Homo sapiens: one gene and its partners. The protein of the gene in region 1 interacts with the protein of each later gene in a biochemical or structural test. Each region holds a gene or a part of one and is shown in the gene's direction. Other genes may lie near its edges. The genes, in order: COPG1, COPE and COPZ1.

Region 1 (3,747 bases):
ACTGGACAGATTTTCTTCTTTCAGCAATAAATGATCTTTAAGTAATTGTTCCCTTTCTCATTTTTATTATTCTGAGCCTTAACTGCAAATTGACGCCATTTGGATATGGAAGGTGAGGAGCTTTACATTATAGCCAGCTTCTGTGACCTCATCATGGTTAATTTGAAATTAGCTCCTGGAACCTTAGAATGGGAGCTACTAATCCCATCTGGCGCCCTTCTCCATTAAATAGATAAGGAAGTTGAGGCCTGGGATGGTGCCAAGATCCACCCAAAGCCACTCACTCTGTTGGTAGTGACTTTGGGCCTCCTGGCTTGAGACTTCTTGCCTCTGGGGCTCTTCTGCCTGAAGACCCATTCTGAGTGCTGGAAGTGCCCAAACAGTGAGTTGTCAGGGTGCATTGGGTAAATCACATTCGCTTCCTAAACACAGGTGCTGTGAGTGCTCTGGCGAAGTTTGGAGCCCAGAATGAAGAGATGTTACCCAGTATCTTGGTGTTGCTGAAGAGGTGAGTCTAGGCCCAGGGGCCCTAATGGGGACAGTGTTCCCTTGGACCCAAGCAGCTTTCCTTTGTCTTTATTTTTTTTTAACTGAAAAGGGAGAGAAAAGTTATACAGCTACTGATTGTAGAAAAAAAAGAGAAAGCATAGAAAAGCATGAAAAACAATGCTGTGCAAATTGCACCAACCAGATGTGACAATTGGTAACTTGAATTATTTTGTCCATTTTTTAAAAATAGCTCTATTGAAGCCGGGCATAGTGGCTCCCGCCTGTAATCCCAGCACTTTGGGAGGCCAAGGCGGGCGGATCACAAGGTCAGGAGATTGAGACCGTCCTGGCTAACACGCTGAAACCCCGTCTCTACTACAAATATAAAAAATTAGCCAGGTGTGGTGGCGGGTGCCTGTAGTCCCAGCTACTTGGGAGGCTGAGGCAGGAGAATGGTGTGAACCTGGGAGATGGAGCTTGCAGTGAGCCGAGATCATGCCCCGCATTCCAGCCTGGGTGACAGAGCGAGACTCCAGCTCAAAAAAAAAATAGCTCTATTGAGATATAATTCACATACCATACAATTTACCCATTTAAGATGTGTAGTTTGATGGGTTTTAGCATATTCACAGAGTGATGGAACCATCACCACAACCTGAGTTTAAAACATTTCATCACCCCAAAGGGAACTCAGTGTTCATGAGTGTGGCCTCTCCTCACTCCCTCCACCCTCCGCCTGGGGCCACCACTAGTCTACTTGTTATCCCTATGGACTTACCTCTAATGAAGCCATGCAGGATCCCTCCTGCCATCCCTGCTGGGTCCCAGTCAGGACCACCTTGTGTCCTGGCTGCAGGTGTGTGATGGATGATGACAATGAAGTAAGGGACCGAGCCACCTTCTACCTAAATGTCCTGGAGCAGAAGCAGAAGGCCCTTAATGCAGGCTATATCCTAAATGGTGAGTCATTCCCTGGCTATCTTGGACTCAGCACCTTACTGGAGCTGTGGTTCTCATCACTCCCTGGGCAGGGGAAATCAGAGGCAAGATGCTCTTGGCTGGACTTGCCTGGCAACCTCATGGCATCATGGTGACCTCAGGAGGTCCCGGGTCATTCAGGTCACACCTGAATTGGGTGGAAATTGTCCAGTGAATTGAAACGCTCATCATTAATAAAAACTTTATTTTTACAGTACTTTACCCTTTACAAGTCACTTTGTATATATGTTTATTCCCCACACCTACCCTGTAAGGGAGGATGTGTCTGAGAATGCAGAGGCTTAGAGAATAAAGTGATTTTCTCAGGGTCATACTACTTAGGACTTGTAACTTCGGGACCCCAGGGCCTCCATGGTGGTCCCTGGTGCACATTTTGCTCTATCTGCCAGGCATGGTGACCTCTCTTCACCTCCAGGTCTGACTGTGTCCATCCCTGGTCTGGAGAGGGCTCTGCAGCAGTACACTCTAGAACCATCAGAAAAACCTTTTGACCTCAAGTCTGTGCCCCTGGCCACGGCGCCCATGGCAGAGCAGAGAACAGGTAACACTTATACTCCTCCCAGAGGCCATCAAGGCCAGGCCTCTGTTGGAGGGTCTGCATTGGCTGCAAAGCCACTAACCTAACTAGGGTGGGTGGCAGTTATGCTGGGAGGAGGAAATGATCTTTTCCACCTCTGGCTCCAGAAAATAGAGACACACATACACACAGACGTGGGCTCTCTCACATGTCTTCTGCTTCCCACTCTCAGGAGGGTTAGTATTTATAATCCCTGAGTAATAGCACTGGGGTCACCACCACACTGCCCCGTGACTCCAGCTGTTGGTCATCACGTGTATAATTTGCTCCTGCAGAAAGTACCCCCATCACAGCAGTCAAACAGCCTGAGAAAGTGGCAGCTACCAGGCAGGAGATCTTCCAGGGTGAGTCACAGTGGTTGGGGGATGCTTGGGACCTGGGCTTAGTTTCCTCAGGGGGTTCAAGAGTAAGAACTGTCATATATTGGTCTCTCCTGAGTGCTAGGCCCTTGAGATGCTTTAGACCTACTATCACATTTGACCCTCAGGTGGTGGTTGTTGGGTTCCTTCAATATCTGAGGAATTGGAAGTTCAGAGAGAGAAAGTAGTAGGAGGGGCTGGAATTAAGGTCCCGATCAAACTGGCTCAGTGCTGTTACTGGGCCTCAATTTGGAGGGCTCGGGTCCCTGGAGCCCAGGCCAGTTCAGAATGTCTGAGAGAGCAGTGCTGGGATTCAAAGACACTGGTACTTTTTGTCGGGTTCCACGTGTGTTCTGTCCACATTGTCTTGTAAGGTTTTCTTCAGGTATCCATCTGTCCTCTGGTGTTGCATTTTTAAGGGGAGAGGCTGTGTGTCTAATTGCAGATTGTTTTATCCACTGAATTCAGTAGATAAAAGCATAGACCCCTCTTCCTTCATGGGCCCTCACTTCCATCCTAGCTCTTCTGTCTTCTCTTAAACAGCCCTCTGTGCTAAATAGTTCTTCACATGTTCTGTCTTTTATTTTCTGCGTCTATCACAGCACTGAGCCCAGTGCCTTCCTTCCTCACAGTAGGCTCCCAATTAATGTTGAATTAAATGAAATCCCCCCTTCCCCATTACACTCAGAATCATGTCTTATATCAATATAGCATGGATCCTGAGCTAATTGGGATCGCTATAACATGAAACTTTCCATTTATATCAGTTTTCTATTGCTGCTGTAACACGTTACCACAAACTTAGTGGCTTAACACATTTATAACCTTATAGCTCTGCGGTCAGAAGTCCAAAGTGGGTTTCATTTGTTAGCAGTGCTGAGTTCTTTCAGGAGGCTCCAGGTATTGCCCCCTTGCCTTTTCCAGCTACTAGAGGTGGCCCGTATCCTTGGCTCGTGGCCCCTTCCACCGTCTTTAAGGGCCCTTCTAGGGCAGAAGGTCAGAGTAGAGTGATTTGAAGAGGCCACACTCCTGGCCTTTTCAAATCTCTCTACTCTGACCTTCTGCCCTAGAAGGGCCCTTATGATTACACTGGCCCCCCCTGGATAATCCAGGATAACCCCTAGCTCAAGATCCTTAATTTAATCACATCTACAAAGTCCCTTTTACCATGCAAGGTAACATAGCTGCAGGTTCTGGGAATTAGCATGTGGGCATCTTGGAGTCATTATTCTGCCACACCTTCCAAGGAAGTCTCCTAAGCCGCTTAAAGGGTAACAATTCCATTTTTAAACAATCATCCAAAAGCCTCACATTTACTAATCA
Region 2 (3,747 bases), on another chromosome or scaffold:
TGCTGGGATTACAGGTGTGAGCCACCACGCCTGGCCAGGAATACTTTTTTTTTTTGAGACAGAGTCTAACTCTGTCACCCAGGCTGGAGTGCAGTGGCACAATCTCAGCTCACTGCATCCTCCGCCTCCTGGGTTCACACCATTCTCCTGCCTCAGCCTTCAGAGTAGCTGGGATTACAGGTGCCTGCCACCACGCCCAGCTAATTTTTGTTTTTTTGTTTTTGAGATGGAGTCTTGCTCTGTTGCCCAGGCTGGAGTGTAGTGGCATGATCTCAGCTCACCACAACCTCTGCCTCCTGGGTTCAAGCGATTCTCCTGCCTCAGCCTCCCGAGTAGGTGGGATTACAGGCGTGCGCCACCACACCTGGCTAATTTTTGAGGAATACATTTTTTAAGCCATCTGGTCTGTGGTAGTTCATGACAGTGGCCTGAGCAACCTCAGCCCCACCTGAGGTGGCCCCAGGGAGAGCACCTGGCAGTCTTTGCCCTTTGCTGCCCCCAGCACTAGGCTACCATCATGACGTTTCTGGGTTTCTGACATTTGCCAGTTTGCCCACAAGATGGCAGGCACCGCCCAGCTGTTGGGGTTGAAGCAGCTCATAGGCCTTGAGTTGCTGACGGCCCAGTGCGGTCAGATCACTGGCTACAGGGACAGAAGGGAGGAGTTACTACCCCCAAGGTTTCTGGCTACAGGGCCCCCATCCTGTCACCCGCCTTCCCAAACAGTACCCTGATTCCTCAACCATGGCCACATCTTAAGCCACCTGGGGCCAGTGCTGGGGCCATCCTAGGGCCAGGTGACCTTGGTGGATGTGGCCTCCTGGCTTTGGTGGTTCCTGGGCTCCCAGGTGATCGTAGTGAGCCCTTGGGGTTGAAGAGCAATGCTCTCCCACCCCGGGGACACACATGCGTCCTGATGGTAGGATCGTCCCTGGAAGTCGAGGAAAACCACAACGGTTCCAGAGCCTCACGTCAGGGTCACGGTCTGCACATTTGTTGTTGTTATGCTTCCCGGCACTCTTGTCTCTCCAGTGCACTCTGCAGCCTCTGAGCACTTCCGCACGCACAGTCTCCTGGGCACCTGCATTTCACACAGGGGCGGCTGAGGCCACCCTGGTGCCCCCGATGGCGCCCCACTGTGTCCTCACTTTGAAAGCCCAACAGCCAGCTTTTGTCTCTTTTTTTTCCCTAAAGATAGACAGGGTCTCACTCTGTCACCCAGGCCAGAGTGCAGTGCAGTGGCATGATCATAGTCCACTGTAGCCTCGACCTCCCAGGCTCAAGCGATCCTCCTTCATGAACCTCCTGAGTCGCTGGGACTACAGGTGCATGCTACCACACCTGGCTAATATTTATAATTTTTTTATGGACACAGGGTCTCAGACCGGGCACGGTGGCTCATGCCTGTAATCCCAGCACTTTGGGAGGCCGAGGCGGCTGGTTCACAAGGTCAGGAGTTCAAGACCAGCCTGGCCAATATGGTGAAACCCCATCTCTACTAAAAATACATATAGTCGCGGCTACTCGGGAGACTGAGGCAGAAAAATCTCTTGAACCCAGGCGGCAGAGGTTGTAGTGAGCCGAGATACACGCCACTGCACTCCAACCTGGGTGACAGAGCAAGACTCCATCAAAAAAAAAAAAAAAAAAAAGACTATGCTTTTTGCTATGTTGCCTATGCTGGTCTCAAACTCCTGGGCTCAAGCAGTGCTCCTGCTTTGGCCTCCCAAAGCACTGGGTTTACAGGTGTGAGCCACCACACCTGGCCTGTCTTTTTTAACTGAGGGTGGCATGTGGCCCTGGGCTAGTCACCTAACTGAAGTCCACCTCAGAAGGTTGATTGAGAGTTACTTATTTATTTTTTATTGAGATGGAGTCTTGCTCTGTCACCTAGGCTGGAGTGCAATGGCGTGATCTCGGCTTACTACAGCCTCTATCTCCCGGGTTCAAGTGATTCTCTTGCCTCAGCCTCCTGAGTAGCTGGGATTATAGGCGCCCGCCACCACACCTGGCTAATTTTTGTATTTTTAAGTAGAGGCGGGGTTTCACCATGTTGGCCAGGCTGGTCTGGAACTCCTGACCTCTAATGATCCACCCACTTCGGCCTCCCAAAGTGCTGGGATTACAGGCATGAGCTACCATGCCCGGCCTATAATATGTTTCTTTGCATACTTGAAAAGGTACATATTTCACCTGTCCATCCCATTTGCAGGTGGGGCTCGATTTCTGCAGCCACCACCCTCCGCATGCCTTTGACATTCTTCTAGGAGTTATTTATTTAGATGGCATCTTGTTCCAAATCATAGCCAGATACCCACTCTGGCTACCAGGGCCTGAGCAGAAGCTGCTGGGTCCTCTTGGCAATGGCAGCCTGAGTCAGGCTGGGGCCAGGTCTGCGGCGGCCTGGGATGAGGACACGTTTGACATCCACGCTCCTCCCTCAGGCTGGGGAGAAGGAAGAGATGTGGCTTGGAATCTGTGGTTCTCGGCTTCAGAGGACAGGGCAGAGTGACTCCCCCTGGTTTGGGCACTGGGTCCTTTGACCCTGTGCCTTGACAGCTGGCAGGCCCTCTTGCTGACAGCCTTCTCAGTCCCCTCTGTTTAGAGGTTGTTGGAGTGGCGATGCCAAGGTGGCTGGGCCCCTTCCCAACTGTACTTTCCTCTCGAAGCCCCCAGGGGCCTGGGCGAGCACCCTCAGGCCATGGGCTGAGCTGCACTGTGCCCACCTGCCATGGGCACCCTGGGAAGTCAGCCAGCCTCCGGGGGCAGCATGCAAAGCTGTGTTCTGGAGAGCGGTCCCAGCCTCCCTCCCTGGCCTGGGCTCAGGGGCAGCTTCATTATCATCCCAAAATGGATGTTGCCACAGGTTACCTCCCTCTTGCTCCTCAGTTCTGTGCAATGGCTGGGCTGTGGGGGTGTGGCCCAAGTACAGAGCCATTCCCAGGGTCTCCCCTGGCCAGGGCTGGGCACAGATGTCACCACACTGGGGCAGCCAAACTGAGCTCAAAATGTCTTGAGACAAAAGCAGAACAGAATCAAGCCACAGTGGCCCCATGTCCAGAGGTTAGAGGTGCGGGTGCCACCCTGGCTTCTTAAGTGTGACTGGGGCAGACACTGAACTTGGGAGCAAGCCTCCTTCCTGGGGTGGTGTCAGCGCGGGATGAGATCAGGCACCCCCCGTGTAGGGTACCCCCAGCAGAGGCCACTCGGGCTACGGAGGATCAGGGCTGGGACTCAGACCTCCAACCCTGCCGGAGAAGCCACCTGTCCCCAGTGTACAGGGGCCTGTCTGTCATGCTCACCCTGTGTGGGCTGCGCTGGGCCTCCCACTGTGCGTCCTGACTCACATTGGTTCCCACAGCTATCAAGCCCAGAGAGAGACGTGGAGAGGGACGTCTTCCTGTATAGAGCGTACCTGGCGCAGGTGAGTGCGGGCCTTGGCCGGGGGCAAGAGTGATGAACAGAGTAGAGGGTGGGGCTGGGGACAGGAAGGCACCACAGAGTGGGTGGCGGGGACAGTAAACAAAGCAGGGACCCAGGCCTGCAGTGTTCAGTGACTGTGAACAGCCAGCGCAGCCAGCATGTGAAGGTGGCTGTGTCACGGAGGCCTGAGACTGCCAGGCCAGGGGGCCTGGGTCACAGCTTCTTGATTTTTTTTTTTTTTTTTTTGAGACGGAGTCTCACTCTGTCGTACTCGATCTCAGCTCACTGCAACCTCCGTCTCCTGGGTTCAAGTGATTCTCCTGT
Region 3 (3,747 bases), on another chromosome or scaffold:
AAGATTGTGCCACTGCACCCCAGCCTGGACAACAAAGTGAAACAAAGTGAAACTCTGTCAAAAAAAAAAAAAAAAAAGTGTTGGCACAGAGTCAGGAAGTATACCTACTTAGCCATTTGGAGCTGGGAGTGGTATCTAGGAATTTCTCCTTCTAGTTTTTACCTTCTTAGTTTTACTTTATAAACAGGATTGAGACAAGAGAATCTTGTTACAGTTTTTAATTCACCAAGACCCATTGCCACATCAGGGTAATGCCACATCAGGCCCTTTTGGTATGGCCTTAGGGAATGTTTTTTTTTTTTTTGATCTGAAGTCTTGCTCTGTCGCCCAGGCTGGAGTGCAGTGGTGCGATCTCAGCTCACCGCAACCTCTGCCTCCCAGGTATAAGCGATTCTCCTGCCTCAGCCTCCTGAGTAGCTGGGATTACAGGCGTCTGCTACCATGCCTGGCTAAGTTTTGTAATTTTGGTAGAGACAGGGTTTCACCATGTTGGCCAGGCTGGAAGGATTTATTTTTAAGTAGACAATGAAGAACTTTTTAGTGATCTCAGTCAGCTTCTTTTTTTTTTTGAGGCGGTCTCACTCTTTTGTGTAGGCTGGAGTGCAGTAGCGCAATTGTAGCTCACTACAGCCTTGAACTCCCAAGCTCAAGCGATCCTCCTGCCTCAGCTTCCTGAGTAGCTGAGACTACAGGTGCATGCCACCATGCCTGGCTAATTTTTGTTTTTTTTAAGTTCTTGCAGAGACAGGGTCTCACTGTGTTGCCCAGGTTGGTCTTGAACTCCTGGCTCTAGTGATCTCCTGCCTCAGCTTCCAAAAGTGCTAGGATTACAGGCATGAGCCACTGCGCCTGGCCTCCATATTCTTATTTGTGCTCTTTCAGCTCTGTAGATGGCATCCTGTAATTCCCTCCATAGAGGCTTCTTGGTTTTTTCCCCTAAATGAATCAAATAATTCATTATAGTTTCCAAGTATCCTCTCTACCTTCCCCAAACATATTCTCCCAGTCTTCTGGTGGCTTACTAAGATCTTACCCCAAAGAGTTCTCTTACTATATACATTGTGAACAGACTTAATTCACTTATTTTTCAGGGCCCATCTCTACTAGTTTGTCCTACAAGACACACAAATAGAGAGCTTTTGCCGGGTGCGGTGGCTCACGCCTGTAATCCCAGCACTTTGGGAGGCCGAGGCGGGCGGATCACGAGGTCAGGAGATTGAGACCATCCTGGCTACAGTGAAACCCCATCCCTACTAAAAATACAAAAAATTAGCCGGGCATGGTGGCAGGTGCGTGTAGTCCCAGCTACTCGGGAGGCTGAAGCAGGAGAGCTTGAACCAGGAGGCGGAGCTTGCAGTGAGCTGAGATCGTGCCACTGCACTCCAGCCTGGGCGACAGAGCGAGACTCCGTCTCAAAAAAAAAAAAGCTCTTATCCAGAGCTGCCTTTGAAAAATATTTTTGCTTATGACTGTAATCCTGTGGAAGCTGCAGGTCACCGAGAAGGCCCACAGGGGGCAGCACTAGGAATGACTCTTTCCCTCTAGTCCTCTATGCGCTAGGGGAGAGAGTTCTTGGAGATGTTGATGCTTTTCACCAGGCTTTAGAAGCCCCTGATTGAGGCCGGGCACGGTGGCTCACGCCTGTAATCCCAGCACTTTGGGAGGCCGAGGCAGGCAGATCATGAGGTCAGGAGTTCGAGACCAGCCTGGCCAATTTGGTGAAACCCCGTCTCTACTAAAAATACAAAAATTAGCTGGGCATGGGGGTGTGTGCCTGTAGTCCCAGCTACCCGGGAGGCTGAGGCACAAGAATCACTTGAATCCGGGAGGTGGAGGTTGTAGTGAGCGGAGTTTGCTCCACTGCACTCCAGCCTGGGTGACAGAGAGAGACTGTCGCAAAAAAAAAAAAAAAAAAAAAAAAAGAAGCCCCTGAGATCAAAGATTCATTTGCAGCAGCCTAGTTGCTTGTTCTGTGGTGTTTCACCTGTCTTGAGGACAGCATTCTTGTTTTCTTGATAATAAAAACATAAATACATGAAAATCTGTCTAAGTCACCCAATCTCCCACAAAACAATCTGCCTATACATCATTTCCAAGCACGATTAGCATTTGAGGTGAAGTTCTGTTATACACTCAGGCTGTGGCTCTCTGAAAGTCAGTGCATCACAGAACTTTGTCTCGAAAGCTTTCTAGCAGCTACCCATTTTGGGAGTGGGAGGGAAGAATAGACCTTTTAAATTCTTTCAGTGTGGCCCTAAGCTGATAAGGTCTTTCTCAACAGTCAGCATTTAATGTGTTACAAGGTCAAGCCTAGTCCATTGTCCTGGAAGCCCATTTCTCAGTAGCTGGGAGTTATTTATAAACTTGCCCTTTGCAAAAACTTAAAATGAAATTACATTATCAGTAATGACTTCTGGGGCCTTTAAACTGGCTAGTTTTATGGCATAGCCCTCCCCACTCCTGAGAGGTAAAAGCCCCAGGCTGAAGTGGAACCAGCTGCAGTCAGGAGGTGGCAGGAGAAGTAAAGAAGCTGCTGGCTCCAGCTGTAGCAGAATGGAGAATTGAAGCGGCATTTAAGCGCCTGCCTAAATTCTCAGCTTTATTTAGTATGCTTCCTCCTTTGGAAGTTTGAAATGACCAGCCTTTTCTGTAATGCCTTCTTTCCCTTTTGAGAGCTCCAGTAAGCTCTATGTCAAATCTAGTCTTTATCCTTGTCCTCCTTAGCCTGTCTTTTATTCTTCCCAGGAAGATCCAATGTTTCTATTTTTGGGGTTTCTTTGATAATGTCTTCTAGGAAGCCAGTGAAAAGAACCAAGAGCAGAACCCAGGGATATGTTCTCTCTTTGCCGGTGTGGCTGTTGTAGGCACTCACACCCTGTTGGCCACAAAGGACATTGTCTGACTCTCCCAGTTGGCTGGGGGCCATTAGGGCTTTGCTTTTCTTTGGGTTCTAGGGATGCCAAACTCTATGGCTGCAAGAACCAGTTTCCTATGCCAGGTTAATGCCCAGCTTAAACTAATGGGCAGCTCTCTAAAGTTGCTGTGAATGTGGATAGAGGAACAGAGCCAAAGATTTCCAGGAAAAGGTTGTGGGAAAAAATGATTTCGTCTAAATTTTGTTCCTTTTGGACTTCTTTTCTTCCATTAAGAAAACTCATTCCCATTGTTGTCTCCCTTTTGGAATTGAGGACCCAAGTTGTTATAGAACTGAGCCTGCTTTACAGGAAGATCTTTCTGTGAGGAATTAGGAGTTAGGAGAGCTGCTTCTACTTGTGACCTTTTAAGACTAGACTCTAGAGGACTTCCCTCCACTAGGCAACAAAGTTCTTTAGTTTGAGAGAGGAGTTACTCATGCCTTGTTTATTCCAGAGTGTTATATATACAGGATGGACATCTCTAAGGAGTGTTTATCAGAGGAGGGATAAAGTTGGTAGTAATATCACCCAAAGTGGCCACATCAGAAAATCCACTTATATGTGGAGGTCTAATTATAAGTAGTCCCTTAGATGCATACTGCGTCAAGGTATTTTAACTTTATTCTCAAACTTCCTTTATTCTCTGAATTATTCACCAAATATTGAGAGTTTAGTATGTGTCAGGCATTGTTCTGGACAAATGGGACAAACCAGCGAACAAAACAAAAATTGCAGTCCTCAAGAATTCAAGTAGGGAAAGCTTATGTTCCTCATCACCTTGTTGTCAAAAGACTGGGTTCCTTTTACTTCCATTCTGAACTGCCCTCCTCTG

Evidence for each region.
Region 2: the proteins of COPG1 (region 1) and COPE form a complex in vitro, tested with the Homo sapiens proteins (one study listed by BioGRID).
Region 3: the proteins of COPG1 (region 1) and COPZ1 form a complex in vitro, tested with the Homo sapiens proteins (one study listed by BioGRID).

Annotation. Positions count from the first base shown.
Region 1 is NC_000003.12:129,266,592-129,270,338, forward strand, and holds part of COPG1 (coatomer subunit gamma-1), read left to right. Parts: intron 1-432; coding exon 433-508; intron 509-1,345; coding exon 1,346-1,449; intron 1,450-1,903; coding exon 1,904-2,029; intron 2,030-2,340; coding exon 2,341-2,409; intron 2,410-3,747. UniProt on the Homo sapiens protein: The coatomer is a cytosolic protein complex that binds to dilysine motifs and reversibly associates with Golgi non-clathrin-coated vesicles, which further mediate biosynthetic protein transport from the ER, via the Golgi up to the trans Golgi network.
Region 2 is NC_000019.10:18,912,661-18,916,407, reverse strand, and holds part of COPE (coatomer subunit epsilon), read left to right. Parts: intron 1-3,361; coding exon 3,362-3,424; intron 3,425-3,747. UniProt on the Homo sapiens protein: The coatomer is a cytosolic protein complex that binds to dilysine motifs and reversibly associates with Golgi non-clathrin-coated vesicles, which further mediate biosynthetic protein transport from the ER, via the Golgi up to the trans Golgi network.
Region 3 is NC_000012.12:54,335,123-54,338,869, forward strand, and holds part of COPZ1 (coatomer subunit zeta-1), read left to right. Parts: intron 1-2,093; exon of another isoform or gene 2,094-2,192; intron 2,193-3,747. UniProt on the Homo sapiens protein: The coatomer is a cytosolic protein complex that binds to dilysine motifs and reversibly associates with Golgi non-clathrin-coated vesicles, which further mediate biosynthetic protein transport from the ER, via the Golgi up to the trans Golgi network.